Linked DNA regions of Homo sapiens. The protein of the gene in region 2 purifies or fractionates together with the protein of the main gene of each other region. This does not show direct contact. Each region holds a gene or a part of one and is shown on either strand. Other genes may lie near its edges.

What was found.
Region 1: the proteins of SCGB1D2 (region 2) and COL14A1 purify together in Homo sapiens (affinity purification with mass spectrometry; 2 studies listed by BioGRID and IntAct, with this or other methods). This does not show direct contact.

The regions. Positions count from the first base shown.
Region 1 is NC_000008.11:120,126,395-120,135,993, reverse strand, and holds part of COL14A1 (collagen alpha-1(XIV) chain isoform 1 precursor), read right to left. Parts: intron 1-9,599. UniProt on the Homo sapiens protein: Plays an adhesive role by integrating collagen bundles. It is probably associated with the surface of interstitial collagen fibrils via COL1.
Region 2 is NC_000011.10:62,235,489-62,246,002, reverse strand, and holds SCGB1D2 (secretoglobin family 1D member 2 precursor), read right to left. Parts: upstream 3,765-10,514; 5' UTR 3,696-3,764; coding exon 3,641-3,695; intron 2,715-3,640; coding exon 2,527-2,714; intron 1,334-2,526; coding exon 1,304-1,333; 3' UTR 1,191-1,303; downstream 1-1,190. UniProt on the Homo sapiens protein: May bind androgens and other steroids, may also bind estramustine, a chemotherapeutic agent used for prostate cancer. May be under transcriptional regulation of steroid hormones.

The DNA.
Region 1 (9,599 bases), on a different chromosome or scaffold from region 2:
CCCTACTTGAACTAATAATTTAGAAAGACTGACAGACAAGATCAGTCAGCAAAAAATCAATTGTATTCTTATATAATAGCAGAAAATAAATAAAAAGAAAAAAATTTTAAATTTATTTACAATGACATCAAAAACATAAAATAGTTAGAAATTAATATGACATGCAAGGCCTCTATACTCTTCAGAATACCAAAATATAAAAGTGTATTACTGACAGAAATGAAAGAAAGCCTAAATAGAGCAGTGCACCATGTTCATGGGTTAAAAAAAAAAAAGTACTCTGTTAGAATGTCTTTAAGATAATCTATAGATTCAAAGCAATTTTAATCAAAATCTCAAAAAAGTCATGGACAAATATTCTCTAAGACAGTTTGCTAAAAGTTAAACTGCTGGTTATAAAGTATGCTTATTCCTTTTAAAAAGTATTAATGGGTTGGGCACAGGGCTCACACCTGTAATCCAGCACTTTGGGAGGCCAAGACAGGCAGATCACCTGAGGTTGGGAGTTCGAGACCAGCCTGACCAATATGGTGACACCCCATCTCTACTAAAAATACAAAAATTAGACAGGCTGTGGTGGTGCGCTTCTGTAATCCCAGCTATTCAGGAAGCTGAGGTGGGAGAATTAGTTGAACCTGGAAGGTGGAGGTTTCAGTGAGCCAAGATTGTGCCACTGCACTCCAGCCTGGACAACAGAGGGAGACACTGTCTCAAAAAGAAAAAAAAAAGTATTAATGCATATTGCCAAATTGGTCTCCAGAGAGATTATGCCAGTTTATATACCACCAAAAGTATATGTGTCTATTTTTCCATAAACTTGCTGGCTCTGATATTTACAAATTCTTTCATGTATGAAAAAATTGTAGTTCAACATATAACATCACCATGGCTAAAAGTATGACTGCACATCTTTCATTTACTTAAGCTGTCTTTTGTTCGGTGAACTCTCTAGCATATCCTTGGTCATTTTTCTATAGGATTGTTCATCTGTTTTTTGTTTGTTTGTTTGTTTTTTGTGATGGAATCTCACTTACTCTGTCACCCAGGCTGGAGTGCAGTGGTGCAATCTTGGCTCGCTGCAATTTCCACCTCCCAGGTTCAAGCAATTCTCATGCCTCAGCCTCCCAAATAGCTGGGATTACAGGCATGCACCACCATACCCAACTGTTTTTTGTATTTTTAGTAGAGACAGGGTTTCGCCATGTTGGCCAGGCTGGTCTCGAACTCCTGACCTCAAGTGATCTGACTTCCTCGGCCTCCCAAAGTGCTGGGATTACAAGCGTGAGCCACCACACTCAGCTAGGAGTGTTCATCTTTTTATGAGAAATTTTTGTATTTAATATGTGGCTCTTTTTCCATCATATATGATAAAACACGTTGCCCAATATTTATTTTTTTTCTTTTTTATCTCCTATGGTTTATGACATGCATATAAGTCTCTTTCTCCTTTGGAATTATAGCATTTTCCTATATTTTCTTTTAGTATTCTTACATTTTCAATTTTTAAATTGAAATCTTTGATCATCTAAAACTTATTTTGATGTAAATGAAAAAGTTTTAACTTTTATTCTCCATGTCTATCCAATTAGTCCAATACCACTTATAGAATAATTTACCTTTTGATCACAGGTTAACAATGCTATATTTTATTTTCGAATCTATCGATTTTCTATTTATGTGTGACTATTAAGTAATTGTAAATATCAAAACTTTATAATATGTTTTAATATTTTCTTTTAAGTTTTCTTTCTGATTATTTTTGACTAGGTACCAAAAACTCCTCAAAATTGGGATCATGTTAAATTAGTAGACCAATTTAGGTAGATCGACCTTTTTTATACAATAGTCCATCTTTACATCAAAAAAGAATATATTCTTTGTTTATTCAAGCCAGTCATCTTCATTTCTTCATGAGCACTTTAAAGAGTTATATAAATTTGACATTTTGAGTTTATTTCTACATATTATATACATATATGTTTTATTTCCTGTTAATGGATTTTTCTTAATCACTTTTAAACAAGTTGTTTATTAATTATAGTAAAGCAATTTTATTTTTATATTAATTTTGTAACCTACCTTGAATAGTTTAACATTTTTTCAAAGTCTTAAAGTTTGTAAAATTGATTTCCTTAATTTTTTCTGTAGATGATATCTTTCTTCTTACCTTCCAAATTTTATGTTTTTCATTTCTTTCCCTTTTCTTATTACTTTGGCTACTATCTCCAGAATATTTATCCTGGAAACTTTGTCTTGTTCTTATTTTTAATAGCAATGCTTCTTTGGCATGACTTTGATTTTGAAGACACATGGCTAGACAGACTGTTAGAGAAGACAAACACAAATATACTGATATAAATGTATCATGTTTAGTAAATTTCCATCTGTGTAAACTTTATTGAGCTATTAATCTGAAATAAAATGTTAAATTATTGTAGTAGTTATGAAGAATATCCTCTAACTTTTTTCTCTTAACTTTTTAACATGACAATTATATTAATCCATTTTCTAATACTAAACTTACCTGTAAAATTTGAGCCCAACTTGATCATTGTGAATTATTCTTTTGGGTTCTATTTACTAATATGCTATTCATATCAATAAGTACATCAATATTAGTGAAATTAATCTGTAGCTTTTCTTTTTTATTATGCTGTGTCAAGTTTTGATATCAGTATTATTTTTTCCAGTTTTATAAAAAATAACAGAATTTTTTCTTCTTTCTCTATACTGTACTTTGGAACAGTTATTTTTTTTTTTTTTATTTTTTTTTTGTTTGAGACGGAGTTTCGCTCTGTCGCCCAGGCTGGAGTGCAGTGGCGCGATCTCAACTCACTGCAAGCTCCGCCTCCCGGGTTCACGCCATTCTCCTGCCTCAGCCTCCTGTGTAGCTGGGACTACAGGCACGCGCCACCATGCCTGGCTAATTTTTGTATTTTTAGTAGAGACGGGGTTTCACCGTGTTAGCCAGGATGGTCTCGATCTCCTGACCTCGTGATCCGCCCGTCTCGGCCTCCCAAAGTGCTGGGATTACAGGCGTGAGCCACCGCGCCCGGCCGGAACAGTTATAATAGCACGGTATTTTTATTTTTTTACATTTTCATTAGCATTCAATTGCAAAACCATGGGGAGAGTTCAGTACTCTTGGAGAGGTTACTTTTTAACAACTTTTTCAACATGTTTGTGTCTAATGTTTTATTCATAATTCCTGTATAATAAAAAATCAGTTTTAGTAATTTGTACTTTGTTTAAAAATAACTCATTTCATATCATTAAAATAAGAATACTGCCCAAAACACAGCCTGGGTGACAGAACAAGACTCTGTTTCAAAGAGAAAAAAAAGAACGTTACCCAAAACAATATCCAGGTTCAATGTTATTGCTATCAAACTACCTACATCATTTTTCACAGAAATAGAAAAAAAAAAAATTCTAAACAAAACCAAAAAAGAGCCTCAATAGCCAAAGCAATTCTAAGCAAAAAGAACAAAATTGAAGGCATCAAATTATCCAACTTCAAACTCTACTACAAGGCTACAGTAACCAAAAAAGCATGGTACTGGTACAAAAACAAACACACAGAAAACGGAACAGGTTAGAAAACACAGAAATAAAGTCACACACCTACAACCACCTGATCTTTAACAATGTCAACAAAAACAAGCAATGGGGAAAGGACTACCTCTTCAATAAATGGTGTTGGAATAGCTGGCTAGCTGTATGCAGAAGAATGAAATGGGACTCCTACCTTTCACCATATATGAAAATTAACTCAAAATAGATTAAAGGCTTAAATGTAAGATCTAACATTATAAAAAAATCCTAGAAGAAAACCTAGCAAATATCGGCTGGGCACAGTGGCTCATGCCTGTAATCCCAGCACTTTGGGAGGCCAAAGCGGGTGGATCATGAGGTCAGGAGATCAAGACCATCCTGGCTAACACAGTGAAACCTCATCTCTACTAAAAATATAAAAAATTATCTGGGCATGGTGGGGCATATGCCTGTAATCCCAACTACTAGAGAGGCTGGGGCAGGAGAATCGCCTGAACCCAGGAGGCAGAGGTTGCAGTGAGCCGAGATAGCGCCACTGCACTCCAGCCTTGGTGACAGAGCAAGACTCTGTCTCAAAAAAAAAAAAAAAAAAAAAAAAAAGAAAGGAAGAAAAAAGGAAGAAAACCTAGCAAATACCATTCCAGACACAGGCTTTGGCAGTGAATCTATGACTAAGTCCTCAAATCAACTGCAACAGAAACAAAAATTGACAAGTGGGATCTAATTAAACTAAAGAGCTTCTGAATAGCAAAAGAAACTATCAAGAGAGTAAATAGACAATCTACAGAATAGGAGAAAGTATTTGCAAAGTATGGACCCAACAAAGGTCTGATATCCAGAATCTATAATGAACTTAAATTATTCAACAAGCAAAAAACAAATAACCCTATTAAAAATGTAGGCAAAGGGCATGAGCGGATATTTCTCAAAAGAAGACATACAAGCAGCCAACAAACATGAAAAAATGCTCCACATTGCTAATCATCAGAAAGATGCAAATCAAAATCACATTGAGATACTATCTCACACCAATCAGAATGGCTATCATTAAAAAGTCAAAAAAAAAAAAACAGATTTGCAGAGAAAAGGAAATGCTTATACACTGTTGGTAGGAATGTAAATTGGTTCAGCCACTGTGGAAAGCAGTTTGGAGATTTCACAAAGAACTTAAAAAACTACCGTTCAACTCAGTAATCCCACTAATGGATATATACGCAAAGGAATATAAATAATTCTACCAAAAAGACACATGCACTCCTATGTTCATCACAGCACTCTTCACAATAACAAAGATGTGAAATCAACCTAGATGCTCATCAATGGTGGACTGGATAAAGAAAATGTGGTACATATACACCATGGAATACTACACAGCCATAACAAAGAACAAAATCATGTCCTTTGCGGCAACATGGATGCAGCTGGAGGCCATTATCCTAAGTGAATTAACAGAGGAACAGAAAACCAAGTACCACATATTCTCACTTATAAGTAGGAGCTAAACAGTACACATGGACATAAAGATGAGAAAACAGACAGTGGGGACTAATAGCGAGGGAAGGAAAAAAAAGGGGGTGAGGGTTGAAGAACTACCTTTTGGGTACTATGCTCACTACCTGGGTGATGGGATCATTCATACCCTAAACTTCAGCATGACACATATACCTATGTCATAAACCTGTTCTTGTATCCCCAAACTTAAAATAAAAGTTGGAAAAAAAAGAATCCATTTCATCCAGGCTTTCTAATTTATTGGCATATTTTTATTTTAATTACCATTAAATTCTTTTAATTTTCTCCAAGTTAGTGATGTTTCCATTTTACATTTCTTTCCTTGTACACGTAGGCTTTCTTTATTTTGCTTTTTAAAAGACAAAAAGCTGAATAAAATGCACAGTGATTTTTGTTTAAGAGAGAAATATCAAATGGAAGGGGAAAGCAACAGTAAAGTAGGAATAAGGGAAGGAAGAAGAAAAGGGAAAATGATGAAGAGGAAGAAGATGAGGAGGCAGAGGAAACAAAGAAAAAATAAGGGGAAAAGAGAGAAAAGAAAACAGTATAAAGGCAGAAAGGATACAAGATGACCTATCTGGCCAAATGTGGGCCAATGTTGCCTAGATTGGTGCTACTCAAAGTAGCTGGTCTATGAACTGTTACTGGTCCTCAGTGAGATAAGGAGCTTATGCCAATATGCAAGTCTATGTATTCTTTTGCTTCCTTCGTCAGAAAAGCTTTGCTATGAAAAAATAATGATAATCTCCGTTGAACTAACAGTGTGCTTGGTGAACAGTGCGCTTATTGACATATTTGATTTACATCATCGTGTAGTTTTTGTCTTATCAGAGGCAGGTAACAGTTTGTGGATGGGCACCAACCAGCAGTAGCACCAAACTTGATCCTTCACCAACCAGGCCTCTGATGAACTGCATCTGTCCCTCATCTTATTGAGGTTCTCCAGCTAGTTTCATGGCCTCAGTCACTGTTTTAACCTTCTAGATCTTGGGCACTATCAGACATCTAGATGGGCAGTTTAACCCATATTCAAGAAAGTTCAACACACATAGGCAATCAGTAAATATTGATTGATTTAATAGTTAATGACTGAATGATCAGGGCTAATGTGTGTACAGCTCGCAGTTAATGAACTAAACAATTTACACTTCGCCTAGGGTCAATGACACTTGAAATTGGCAGACACTCTGCTCCCAAGTTGTGTGCCCCAGTGCAAAGCTGTGTTATCCAGATAAAACAGAACTGTTTTCTTCTCCCATGCCATAGGTTTGCACAGAGAGGCTTCCTTTTTCTAATTTACAGAAAAACTATATTAGGTTAGCAGCATCCCTGTGAATCACTCAAACGCAAGGAATTTGACTGAAAATTAGCCTCAGTTATACAGCTGCTCAATCAGTATTAAACTCATGCTGTATGTTCTAAATGACAGAAGGTAGAGCCATTCCAAAAGTATGGCAAATTGGAATGACAGCTGCTTGACACAAGAATGTTCTTCACCTGGCTTTTTTTCCCTCTCTTCATTTTTTTCAAACACTGACATAGTTCATCTGTCAAAGAAATGGGAGACTGTTTTTAACTACAATGTACATCTGTAATCAGTATAAAGGGTAGCTTTACATCTCAGTTTAGACATCCTTTCCTTCAGGAAGTTTTCCTTGATCTTCCAAGTCTGGGGTCAGGTGCTCTTCCTGTTTCCTATAGTAGTAATCTTTATTTTCCATTCTGCAGCATTGAACACTACCCCGTAGTTAGCTATTGGCATTTCCATTTGCCAAAGCATATTATTCCCTACTGTATTTTGAATGCTTAGCACAGTGCCAGCACATGGCAGGAGACAGGGCTGGGAAGTGAAGGAAGAACAGAAGCAAACAACCTGCAGCAAATTATCATTTTTAGACATCAATTAAATGTTCTCCTCTTTGCAAAAGCCAGAGACAAAAGGCCACCCAGAAATAGATCTTTATCCAATAATGGGCCCTCTGACTGCTCCTAGATAAAGACACACCCTAAGACATTGCAATGGACTTAGCAAAGCACAACCTACCTCTGGACCAATTTTTGTAAGCAACTCAGATAATTTCTAGGAGAAATGAGGCAAAACATTGCTCTCTAAAATTCACAGAGACACCTTTCAGGGTAGCTCCGACAAAGGCCCATAGAGAGAAAAGTGCAACAAGACCACTAATAAAAAAATTACCTGGAGGAAACGGGGAGTCTAGGCTCTAAACTTTGACTTAAAGAACGCTCAGAATTTCCTATAGACTCTCTTTTATATTCTCAATGCCCGCCTCAGCCTCCCAAGTATCTAGGATTACAGGTGCCCACCACCACGCCCAGCTAATCTTTATATTTTTAGTAGAGATGGGGTTTTGCCATGTTGGCCATGCTGGCCTTGAACTCTTGACCTCAGGTGATCCTCCCAAAATGCTGGGATTACAGGCATGAGCCACTGTGCCTGGCCCCATATAGACTTTTCTTAATCATATTTCTGTCACTTGCTGTCTTTGTGATCCCATACAAGGTGCTTTTTATCCTTGAAGCTCAGTGATTGCTAAAGGAGGAATATTATTTTCTTCCCCAAGTAACTGGGAGACTTAAGTGTGTTTCTAAAAGAGAAAAAGGCAGATACCCAGTAAGTACTCAAAAAATATGCCAACATTTCCAACACACACACACACACACACACACACACACACACGCGCGCGCACACACACACACACACGTCACAGGAACAGGATGCAGTTTGGTCTACAACAAAAGCTTAGTGTATACAGAAAAGTAACTGGATCCCTGCCATTTTTTATTTACTCACAGAAGAAGTCAAGGAGAATGATTATTTTCCTAACATCCAGCACTATCGAGGGGCAAACCTGCCAAGAAGAAAGTTTATTTTTATCACTTTCCTTTAAACTTTCTCCCTCCACTCTACTGTCAGTTCCCTGGGGGGATCAACTAGTGCCCCGTTTACCAACAACTTTGTTCTCAATGGACTATCATAATCCCAGATAATTTGTTAACTCAGTGGTGCTCAAACAGCACCACTCCATCATGCAGCAGTTCTAGGAAGGCTCTTGTCCTTTAAAGGGATCTTAGGTTACACTAGACAGGCCAGGAAAACAGCAGTCATTTGGCTGGGTTTAGATAACACTGACTGCGAATGTGGCTTTACAGTGGTATCACTGCAGAGGCTGTCAACTGAAAACGAGCAAAAGACATTTGTGTTTTACTGTGTGACACTAGGAAATATTTAAGATTGAAAGGGAGACTCCCCAAGAGGTCTTCTTAATGAGCTAGGGGCTTTCCCTAGAGCCCCTCAAATCAGATCGATTTGTTCAGCCCATTTTTAAGAGCAGCCCTGGCTGATTCTGAAAAATCAAGACATGCGTGGAGGGCCCCAAGAGTTCTCTGAAATCCTCAGCTGGACGGTTCGCAGCAGGATAAGTGCCAAGAGCCTCCTCCCATCAATCTTGAAGGCTGGGATCCATCCAAAACTGCTCCAGGAATCCTGATGGGTTCCAAGGAATACTTCCCAGGGAATTACTAAGAGGCCTTACCAGTGGGGCGCCTGTCCTTTCAAAGGGACCCACAGGAGGTCAGGGCTGCAGTGGAGGTTCAGGTCTATCCTGGCTCAGGGATCCCCAGGGAGAAGGAGAGGATGGATACCCAGTATTTACTGAGAGAATAAGAAAGATAGCCTGTACATCATGGATGAACCTTGAAAATATTTTGCTAGGTAAAAGAAGCAGTCACAAAGGACCACATATTGTATTCTTCCATTTATATGAAATGTCCGAAATAGGCAAATCCATACAGACACGGCGGCAGGTTAGGGAGAAATGGGGAGGTACTGCTAATAGGTACAGGGTTTCTTTTTGGGGTGCTAAAATATTCTAAAATGGTGGATTTACTCTGCTCTGTGAAAACACTAAAAATCATTGAATTGTACACTTTAAATTGGTTAATTGAGAGGTATATGAATTATATCTCAATAAAGCTGTTTTAAAAACAAGCAAACAAAACTATTCTGAAGTTTACCTTATAATAGCGAAGCACTTGGGTTCAAAGGAATCCAAGTTACTCTTCTGAAAAACCAAATATTCACATGCTGTTCATTCATTCATTTATTCATTCACTCATTCTAAATTTACCAGTGAGTTCTCTATGTGCAGACTGGACCATGCTGTCAGAAACAGAACACCGGTCCTTCACTGCATCCAGCTTAAAGCCTGTTTGCTGGGTTTCAAGAGAGCCTCTCTATCACCTACTGCAAGTATTATAAAAAGTGCCCTCCCTGTCCCTCAGTAGAGGAGGGGCCCCAAGGCCTTTAACAGGAGTTTCAGGAAAATCCATTTTCATTTCTGCTCTCCTCTCCACAGCCACCAAAGACTTACTCCCATCTTTCTCTTGTTCCTGCCCCCACTCCCACCCCCTTCAGCTGCTGCCAACAGAGGACTCTCCAAAACTTGCAGAAGTAATGGGACTCTGAGAAGCAATGTTTGGGGGGAAATCCTGGCCCATGTGAGAGCTGCACA
Region 2 (10,514 bases):
CGCCTGTAGTCCCAGCTACTCGGGAGGCTGAGGCAGGAGAACAGCGTGAACCCGGGAGGTGGAGCTTGCAGTGAGCCGAAATGGTGCCACTGCACTCCAGCCTGGGCGACAGAGCGAGACTCCTTCTCAAAAAAAAAAAAAAAAAAAAGCCAAGGTGGGTGGGGTTGATGTAGAAAGAAAAGAAGGGAACATATCATGGAGGCAGAGGTTGGAGTGATGTGGCCACAGGACCAGGACAATTATTAGCCCAGAAGCCAGAAGCAACCCTTAGTGAATTCCCCCCAAGAGTCCCCAGAGGGAGCGGAGCCCTGCTGCCCCCTAACGTCTTCACAGTGATACTAATGTTGGACTTCTGACCCCCAGAGATGCCTGAGAATCAGTCGTTTTAAGCCATGAAGTTTGCAGATTTTTGTTCCAGTAGTCACAGGACACCAAGCAGGGAAACTGTGGTGTCTCTCTGTGTCCTGGTCAGGGTGCTTGCTGGGTGGGTGCCTTAGCCTGGATGGGCTCATGGAAGGGAGAGCAGGCTGGGGGCAGACCCTGTGCTCAGTTTTACATCCTGCTCCTGAAATGACTGTGGAGTGCGCACTGGGAGCTGTCCAGTTGTCAGGGGGTGCTGGTCTCTGGAGCTCTTGGGAGAGCTTGAGGAAGGAAGCATTCACCTCAGGTGCTGGTGAGTGATGCAGACGCTGAGGAGTGCTCTGAGCGTGGGGAGTAAAACAATGTGAACTCCAGGTTGAAACCTAAAGAGGACCCCAAATTGTGATAAGTGGAAAATGAAGTATACTGGACATGACGGAGGACAGAAAGCATAGTGCAGAGAGAGCACCAAGCAGGCTGACTGTGGGTCTGAGGGGACATCAGAGTAAAGTCACTGATAGGTGGGAACCCTCGGCCTGGATACCCATTCAGGCTGGGGGTTCTCTCAGTGTAAGACCAGTGGAACATTTCAATTCCTGTGTCCTTGTTACCATGGTTTTTATTCACGGCTGCAAGATGGGAAATCTGTAAGGAATGCAGGATAATTCCTACCAAATATTCTCCTCTGTGACACCTGGACTCAGGCCCCATTAGTAACAGGATGCTGGTTCTCTGGAGTTAATTATCACCCACAGCAAAAGGCCACTCCACTATGGAAACCACCCTGTACTCAAGGCTCGAGACTGCAGGATTATAACAAGACCAGTGGAGACGTGGAGAGCAAGTGATTTATTAAAGCAAGACGTTGAAACCTTTACATTCTGCAGTGAAGATCAGGGTGTCATTGAAAGACAGTGGAAACCAGGATGAAAGTTTTTACATGTCACACACTACATTTCTTCAATATTTTCACCTAAAATAGGAAAAGAAAAAAGAAGGTGGGGTCAGTCATGCTGCTGCTGGAGGTGACAGGCTCACATCCAAGAGGCCAGTGGGATTCTGCCCCCAAAGGCAATTGGAAGGGCAGAGGCAACAACTCAGTTTGGGAAACTGAGGCCTAGACCTGGTGGCCTCACAGCACCCATGCCGGTGATGGAGCAGCCTTTTCTTGCCAGGCCAATAGCCCTGGGGTGATCCGGGAATGAGGCCCAGGATCCTCATGGAAGCAAGTGACGAGGGTTGGAGAGAGCAGCAAGAGGTTATTGCCTGGGCTGTCCCAGGGCTTGGAGTCTCCTGGTTCCTGCAGTGAGGGACCCAGGACTGAGAGGCTGGTCAGGGCTGAGAGGGCTTCTGGGAAGCTTGGCTTCCAGGAGACTCCAGCCTCCCCATGTGGGAATTCTGCCTCAGGGCCCGAGCACCTCTCAGTCCCGAGCCTGCAGCTTCCATGAGCATTTGCAGCTAAACCTCAGGACAGCAACTCAGAGGCAGCCAGGCAGAGAGGCCCCTGGAAAACCTCTGATTTCTTGAGAAAGACAGAGTGAGAACATCCCGCTTCCATGGCACTGCAGGAGGTAGACTAGCTAGGGTCTTGGACGACTGGCCATGGTCAGGAGAGTGTCGTGGGTGTGGAGGGGAGTATGGGGTCTCAGGAGCTGGGAGGGGCTCCTTCCTGGCTCTGCAGAAGCTGCAGAGAAGTCCAGCCTGCCAGTGCTACATCTGCAGGAGCCCCTGCTCTATGTCCCTCCCTGCCTTCCTCTCCCTGTTCAAGGCTCCCATGCTCCCCAGGACATTCCACAGTGACTGTGTCCATTACATGAGGGCAGTTTGGTCTCAGGAAAGCTCCCAGCAGCGAGGCGGCCATGCTTGGCCCTTTACCATTTCTGCCTGGGCCCAGGCTCACTCCCCATGTCCTCAGCACACTCTGGGGACATGGCATCCAGGCAGGTGACATGAGAAGGAGGAACATGCAGGAGGCTGTGTGCAGCTGAGTTGAATTCTGCAGGTGAAATGGTGGCACCCACCCTGTGGCCCCAGGTGACCTTCTCAAGAGGTGACCAGCAAGGCAGCTGCCCCACCACCTGTGTCCCCAACAGAGCAGCAAGCTGACCTCACTTCATACTGTGCAGCTGACCAGAAGCCTTAACAAATAAAGGAGAAAGAAGTTACCAGGACTTCCGCAATGAGGCTTCGTTTCTGAAGGGACATCTGATCCGTGCATCTCTTCACTCCTAACTTGGCTGCAACAGCTTCCGGAGGGGCATCAAATTTGGCAAGACTTAACTTGAACAGAGGTTCACTAATGAAGAAGAAGTCTAACAGCTCAGAAACAAGAGCTGGGCAGAACTCGGCATTGGCTGCAGCAAAAGAATAAAAATATAGTTGATGTTAGGAAAGTCGATTTTTCTCTTTGGCTCCCTGACGTTAGACCAGACAGGATCCCCTGGGTTATATGTTCACATACATTTGTTGTGCTGATGACAATGCCAGACCCTTCAGGTGTGACTTCCTCAAGCTCTCACAATAAAGGAAAGCACTTCATATCAACAGCCAAACTCTTTTTTTTCCCTTTGTCACCCAGGCTGGAATTCAGTAGCTCAATCATGGCTCACTGCAGCCTCTACCTCCTGGGCTCAAGCGATATCCCCATCTCAGCCCCCTAAGTAGCTGAGACTACTGGTGCATGTCACCACGTCCAGCTGATTTTTCATATTTCTTTTGGTAAAGCTGGAGTTTCGCCACGTTGCCTAGGCCGGACTCAAACTCCTGAGCTCAAGCAATTCACTCTCCTTGACCTTCCAAAGTGCTAGGATTACAGGCATGAGCCGCCATGCTTAGCCCACAGCTAGACTCTTTTGACAGTATTAATCTTTCTTACTCCATTCTCATAGCCTCTCCTGGCAGAAGCGCTAACTACCAGTGATAGGAGGAGGCTCAGGGAGGGTGAGCATTGTGCCCAAGGTCAAAGGGCTGGGAAGTGGCGGATCCCAGATTCACCCCAGACCTCACATTACATCATCTGACACAGATCCCACCCAGGAGTGAAGCTCAGGCAGAAGAATTCCTAATATTTGCCTGCACTGATTTTCAATAAAACTTCGTAGGTGCTGGGGAGTAGAAGAAATAGCTCTGAACTTGATGAGGGGCTTGTTCAACAAGCACAGAAAAAGGTTTGGAATTTTGGTTTTGTGCAGATCCTAACCCCAGCCTGAATAGGTGACCTCGTGCTTGGAAGAGGGTGCTTCCCAGGGGCTGGAGCTAGACTCATGACTGATGTACTCACCCTGGTAGCAGCAGAGGGCCAGCGTGACCAGCAGGAGACACACCGACAGCTTCATGGTGGCTTGTTTTGCTGTGAGCTCAGCTTTCACAAACAATGAGTGATTTGGACTCCACCCCAGGAGCCTGTGGAGCTGCAGAGCCCAGGGCTATTTGTACCTAGGGAGTCTAGCTGGTACTGGTCATGAGGCCTGGCTCCCAGCCCACCTCTCCTTCCCAGGGCTGTTGCCATCCATCTGTGTCACCTCCCCACGCCTCCCTGCACTCTGACTGGGGCAGAGCACAGGAGGGTAGCCCTGCAGGAACTCTGCTCTGTGTTCCAGGTGAATGTTCAGGCACCTCTGGAAATATTCCTGGGATTCTGTTTCCTTCTGAGTTTTGCTGATTATTTTTTTTCTTTGTATCAGTTCAAGGGCACAGGTAAATTCTGACTTTGGAAGGCACAGGAAGCTGGAAGGCTGTGTTCTGGTTATGGGGGAGCAGGGACATAAGGAAACCCTGCTTTGATCCCCCTGCATGTCTGACAACCAGTAGGCTTGTTTCAGTTGCACATTGAGCAAGTCTAAACAAGACCTATTCCCCTCAGCCCCTCCCATCACCACCATGTTCACTGCATAGGTACCTAAAACCTAGTTCAATGCATCTTACCTTTGGAGGATTTCCTGGGGAAAAGCAACTGCTGCACCTGTTCTCTAGCCTGTCTCACTCCCAAACCTGAGTCTTGTTTATGAGTGCAGCTATAAATATGGCCAAGACTCACATTTTCTCTCTACGAGGAGCAAGCTTTCTGTGATGTGTAGCCACCCACATGTTGATGGGTTGACCTGATGATTACATAGCCTAACTTTTTCCAAGTAGCTTTTGGAGTGTCCAGAGCCAATCATGCATCGGACAGGTACTGAGAGTTCTTTGCTCTGGGGCTCCAGGAGGGGAAGAAGATGGAAAAGAAGAGACAGATGATCAGGGTGAGTGGTCACTTCCCCCCAACCTCTAGGCTCAAGTTTTCCACTTCAAATCTAGCTGTGCAGCCTGAGCCAATCCCATTTTTAATAGAAAGGGAAGGAAGCACCCAGACAAAGCAATACACACCCTCCTGCCCTCCTGCTGTGATGCCTTTGTGTGGTGTGAGCAGGAAATCAATCACTAGAAATTTCTCTCTCTTTTTTGTTATTATACTTTAAGTTTTAGGGTACGTGTGCACAACGTGCAGGTTAGCTACATATGTATACATGTGCCATGTTGGTGTGCTGCACCAATTAACTCATCATTTAACATTAGGTATATCTCCTAATGCTATCCCTCCCCCCTCCCCCCACCCCACAACAGTCCCTGGTGTGTGCTGTTCCCCTTCCTGTGTCCATGTGTTCTCATTGTTCAATTCCCACCTATGAGTGAGAACACGCGGTGTTTGTTTTTTTGTCCTTGCGATAGTTTGCTGAGAATGATGGTTTCCAGCTTCATCCATGTCCCTACAAAGGACATGAACTCATCATTTTTTATGGCTGCATAGTATTCCGTGGTGTATATGTGCCACATTTTTTTAATCCAGTCTATCATTGTTGGACATTTGGGTTGGTTCCAAGACTTTGCTATTGTGAATAGTGCTGCAATAAACATACGTGTGCATGCGTCTTTATAGCAGCATGATTTATAATCCTTTGGGTATATACCCAGTAATGGGATCGCTGGGTCAAATGGTATTTCTAGTTCAAGGTCCCTGAGGAATCGCCACACTGACTTCCACAATGGTTGAACTAGTTTACATAATCATGTGATTTTTTCATTGGTTCTGTTTATATGCTGGATTACATTTATTGATTTACGTATGTTGAACCAACCTTGCATCCCAGGGATGAAGCCCAATTGATCATGGTGGATAAGTTTAATGCCCACAAGAGAAAGCAGGAAAAATCTAAAATTGACACCCTAACATCACAATTAAAAGAACTAGAGAAGCAAGAGCAAACATATTCAAAAGCTAGCAGAAGGCATTGAATAACTAAGATCAGAGCAGAACTGAAGGAGATAGAGACACAAAAAACCCTTCAAAAAATCAACGAATCCAGGAGCTGGTTTTTTGAAAAGAGCAACAAAATTGATAGACCACTAGCAAGACTAATAAAGAAAAAAAGAGAGAAGAATCAAATAGATACAATAAAAAATGATAAAGGGGATATCACCACCGATCCCATAGAAATACAAACTACCGTCAGAGAATACTATAAACACCTCTATGCAAATAAACTAGAAAATCTAGAAGAAATGGATAAATTCCTCGACACATACACCCTCCCAAGACTAAACCAGGAAGAAGTTGAATCTCTGAATAGACCAATAACAGGCTCTGAAATTGAGGCAATAATTAATAGCCTACCAACCAAAAAAAGTCCAGGACCAGATGGATTCACAGCCGAATTCTACCAGAGGTCCAAGGAGGAGCTGGTACCATTCCTTCTGAAACTATTCTAATCAATAGAAAAAGAGGGAATCCTCCCTAACTCAATTTATGAGGCCAGCACCATCCTGATACCAAAGACTGGCAGAGACACAACAAAAAAAGAGAATTATAGACCAATATCCCTGATGAACATCGATGCAAAAATCCCCAATAAAATACTGGCAAACCGAATCCAGCAACACATCAAGAAATTTCTCTCTTAAATGAACTTACTTTTGAGAGGATTCACAGCCTAGGCCCGAGCTTTCCATTCGCAGCTGCGCAATCGAATCACTTGGAGCTTTTAAAATATACTGACTCCCCAGGTTTCTCTCTCTGGGGATTTTGATTCAGTAGCGTTGGGTTGACTCCCTGATTCCTACACTGTTTAAACTGCTCTGGTGTTTCTGATGGGCAGGAGGGCTGAAAACCACACAGAAAGACATGTATGTAAAGAGGGGACCTTATGGGCTGTGTCATCAGAGACAACTTGGCAGGTTTGTTTGAGCCCCAGCTGAGGGCAACAGTGGCTGTCACTTCCATCACACAGGATCATGAGGAAATCCCTGAGCCAGCTCTTCCGCCACCACCAAGGAGTGGGAGGGCCAGTGGTGAGGCTCACAGATACAAGGCTCACAGATACAGCCTCATTTGTGGGCTCTTGGACCTTAAGAAAATTATTCAGCTTATGTAACCTCAGTTTTCCTATTTGTCAAAGTAGGCTAGTAATTGTGCCTACATCATTGGGTTCATAGATGATCAAATGAGTGTGTTCATGGGGGTGTGTGTGTTTAAAGTTAACTAAGTTCTGGTACATAGTAGTTCTCAATAAATTCTAACTCCCATTATCTTGTCCCACTTGTCATATATGTCATGGTTTGCCAGTAGTTCCTAGTTTAGAGCACAGCCAAAATCCACTAAATCACCTACTTTCAGAACTACATGGACACCTAGATACACCATTTCTCTCTGACATAAATGGAAAAAGAAATCCAGTTCATGATCTCTGAGTCTACAGACCCATGGACTTGGGCTTCAGGACTGAGACGTCTTTCACAGCAGACAGGTCTGTGAGGCATTCATCCTAACTGTGGACCAGAGCTTGTCCTGGCACAGGCTTGGCATTCACCTTGTCAGCTCTATGGTCCACCGGGGAGGATGTGTATCTCTGAGAGAGGACTGTTTGCTTGTACTTTTATCATTCCTATTGCCCTTAACACCTGCACAGGGTTTTTTAGTTTTCATCATTGATATTTTTAATGGGTCCCTCCTCCTTACCGAGTTCATGCAATATTTCAGTTCATTCTTTCCACCCACGGGCATTGTTGCCTGACCCCGATGCTTTGGTCAGTGTTGCCCTTTACAGACACTGCTGGAACCATGCACCTCTCATTTGCAGCAATTCCAAGGCTGTTATTTTACAAATGTGTAATCAGTTCATGGATACAAGTTTTCCTGGACTGTTAGCTCCATAATCACAGGGCCAGTATCTGCTTTTGCTCATCTTGGCTCAGCACAGCGGCTGGCATGGAGAAGAAGATCAGCAAACAATCTTTTAACAAATACATCATAAAATTATGAATCAACAAACTGCTAAATGGGTGACATTCATGTTCAGTGTAAAAGAATGCTCATGGTGCCAGGCTTCCCTGTGGGCAGTTGAGGGTGAAAGATGAGTAGTGTGGTGGTGACTGTGAAAGAAACTCATCGGTTTTCCACATCCCTAGAGAGAACAGTGAAACGAGGATTTTGCCGCATCAACCACTCCAACTCCTAATCTTCTAGTGGAAGCCAAGACTTCTAAAACAATTTCAGGGAAATTTAATATCAACTCACCAAGCTCTATATTGACTAATAGGAGCTCCTGTTTAGTTTCTCTTCTAATTAGGAGGTTCAGAGCTTCTGAGTTCCCAGGGTCCCAGCAGCAAAGCAGCCCATGGGGACAACTCCTCTGCCCTTCCCCAGCCATGAGCAGAGTGCTCCAGGGAAACAGGGGGAGGCATGGAACGTTCTGGGTGAAGGCACTGAGACGTGTTGCTGGGAATATAAAGGAGCATATCTGAGTGCCGCTCAGGGACACATCGGATTTGATTCACACACACACACACACACACATACACCCACACACAACACACACACACACAGACACACACATATGCACACATACACACAGACACACACATACACACAAATACACACACACAGATACACATACACACAGCCACACATACACACACAGACACACACAAAACATACACACATACACACACAGACACACACAAACACACACACATACACACATGCACACAGACACACACATACATGCAAATGCACACATACACACATACACGTACACACACACACACACACAAAGTGTGGAAGAAGCCCAGGGAACAACATGAGAGAAATCGACAATGTATAAACCAAGTGGCTTGTGAGGGACACCAGATAGCCAGGTGAACCTGAAACAGACAGGTGCACATGGTAAAACAGGGATGGGTTTGTGGCTGGAGAACAGGATGGGCCAAATGGAGGGGAGCTTCCACTTTCCTCTATGGCTTATGACAGCAGAATGGGTGTGAGAGGTGAGACACCTTCAGATTTTGCTACCCCACTGATTTTTTTGGTTTTCAAATCTCAGGTCAAAATAACATAGACTTTTCATACCCCTTAGGGTGCTATTATAAAACAGACCAACAAGCAAACTAATAAATTAGAATATAATATTGTAACAAGGATGTACAGAGGTAGCAATTCTTGTGCACATTTGGTGGGAATGTAAAATCTGCAGCTGCCATGGAAGAGTATGGGGGCCTCTCAAATTAAAATAGAAAATATCATAGGATGAAGGAATTTCTCCTTTGAGGATACATCCACAAAAACTGAAATCAGGATCTTGTAGAGATATTGCATACGCATGTCTTTAAGGACACTATTCACATCCATCAGGAAGGGGATCCAATCCATTGTTCATCCCCAGATAAATGGATGAAGCAAATCTGTGCATTCATGGAATAGAATCTTATTCAGACTCAAAAGGGAAGAAGATTCAGACACAGGCTGTAGAATTCTATATAGATGAACTAGAGTACATTATGCTATATGAAATAATCCAGTCACAAAAACAAACATAGTATGATTCCACTTATGCATGGTATTTACAGTAGCCAGATTCATAGAAACAGAAATTAGAATAGTGGTTTCCAGGAAAAAGATATTGAGAGTTATCATTTAGTGATAGAGAGTTTCAGGTTTTTAAGAGAAAGTTTCTAGAGATTGGTTGCACAACAAATCTCTCTCATGAATGTACTTAATACCACTAAGGTGCACACTAAGAAATGCTTAAAATGGCACTTTTTACATTTTCGTACCACAATGAAAAAAACTTAAATCACCTAAGCTTGAAATCAAAATTACACTTTCCAAGCACCTCAATTCTGAGCTACCTGCTTCTGTAAAGCCAAAGATTTACAGAAGGCCAAAAGAGCCTTGAGCACATTCTTTCCTAAGCCCTTTCTTTTTCTTGGCTCATTCATTCAGCAAACAAACCACTTTTTATTATTGATCACACAAACATTCACTTAACTTCATAGAATAGAATGTTCCATGAAAATCCAGCCACCAAACCAACAGTGAGTTCATTCTATTTAGAAACAGGGAGGTCCTGCAAGTTGCAAAATCTTCTGTAGCTAATGAGAATAGTGGTAACAAAAAATGGTAGCAATAGTTTTCGGTTTGTATGTCCAAACCTGCAAAACACAATTTATCATAATCACGTCCTTGTCACAAAATTATAAGATATAAGCTATTACATTTCCAAAATTATAGTGGAGGCAACTTACTTGCAGAAAAAAGAAACCTGTCCACAGTTGCACAGCTTGAAAGCCTGAAGGTCTGGCTCTGGCACTGATGGTGTGTGAGTTGTCAAGTAACCAAGTGCTTCTCTCAGTTGTACATCTGGCAATGGTGACATGTGAGGTGGGATGAAGTTGGATACAGATTAATTTCAATCTCAGCTCCTCCTTGCATTTCACTTTTGGACTCAAATGAATTCTTCTAATGATGACTCATACTAGCTCCTTCATTTAGTTGATTTCTTTTTTTATTCTTTATTTTTTTTCCTTTTAAGCAAACATCCTATACTGACAACACCATATGCTGGCGAGATGATGAGCAACAGGAACTCTCATTCATTGACTGGTGGGAATGCAAAATGGTACAACCATTTGGAAGACAACGTGGCAGTTTCTTACTAAAGTGAGCATATTCTCACCATAAATTCCAGTGAGTTTGCTCCTTGATATTGACCTAAATTAATTGCAATGTTATTTCTACACAAAAATGTGGACACAGATACTCATAGCAGCTTGATTGAAAATTGTCAAAACTGGGAAGCAACTGAGAAGTCCTTTAAGAGGTACAGGGATTATTAACCTTTGGT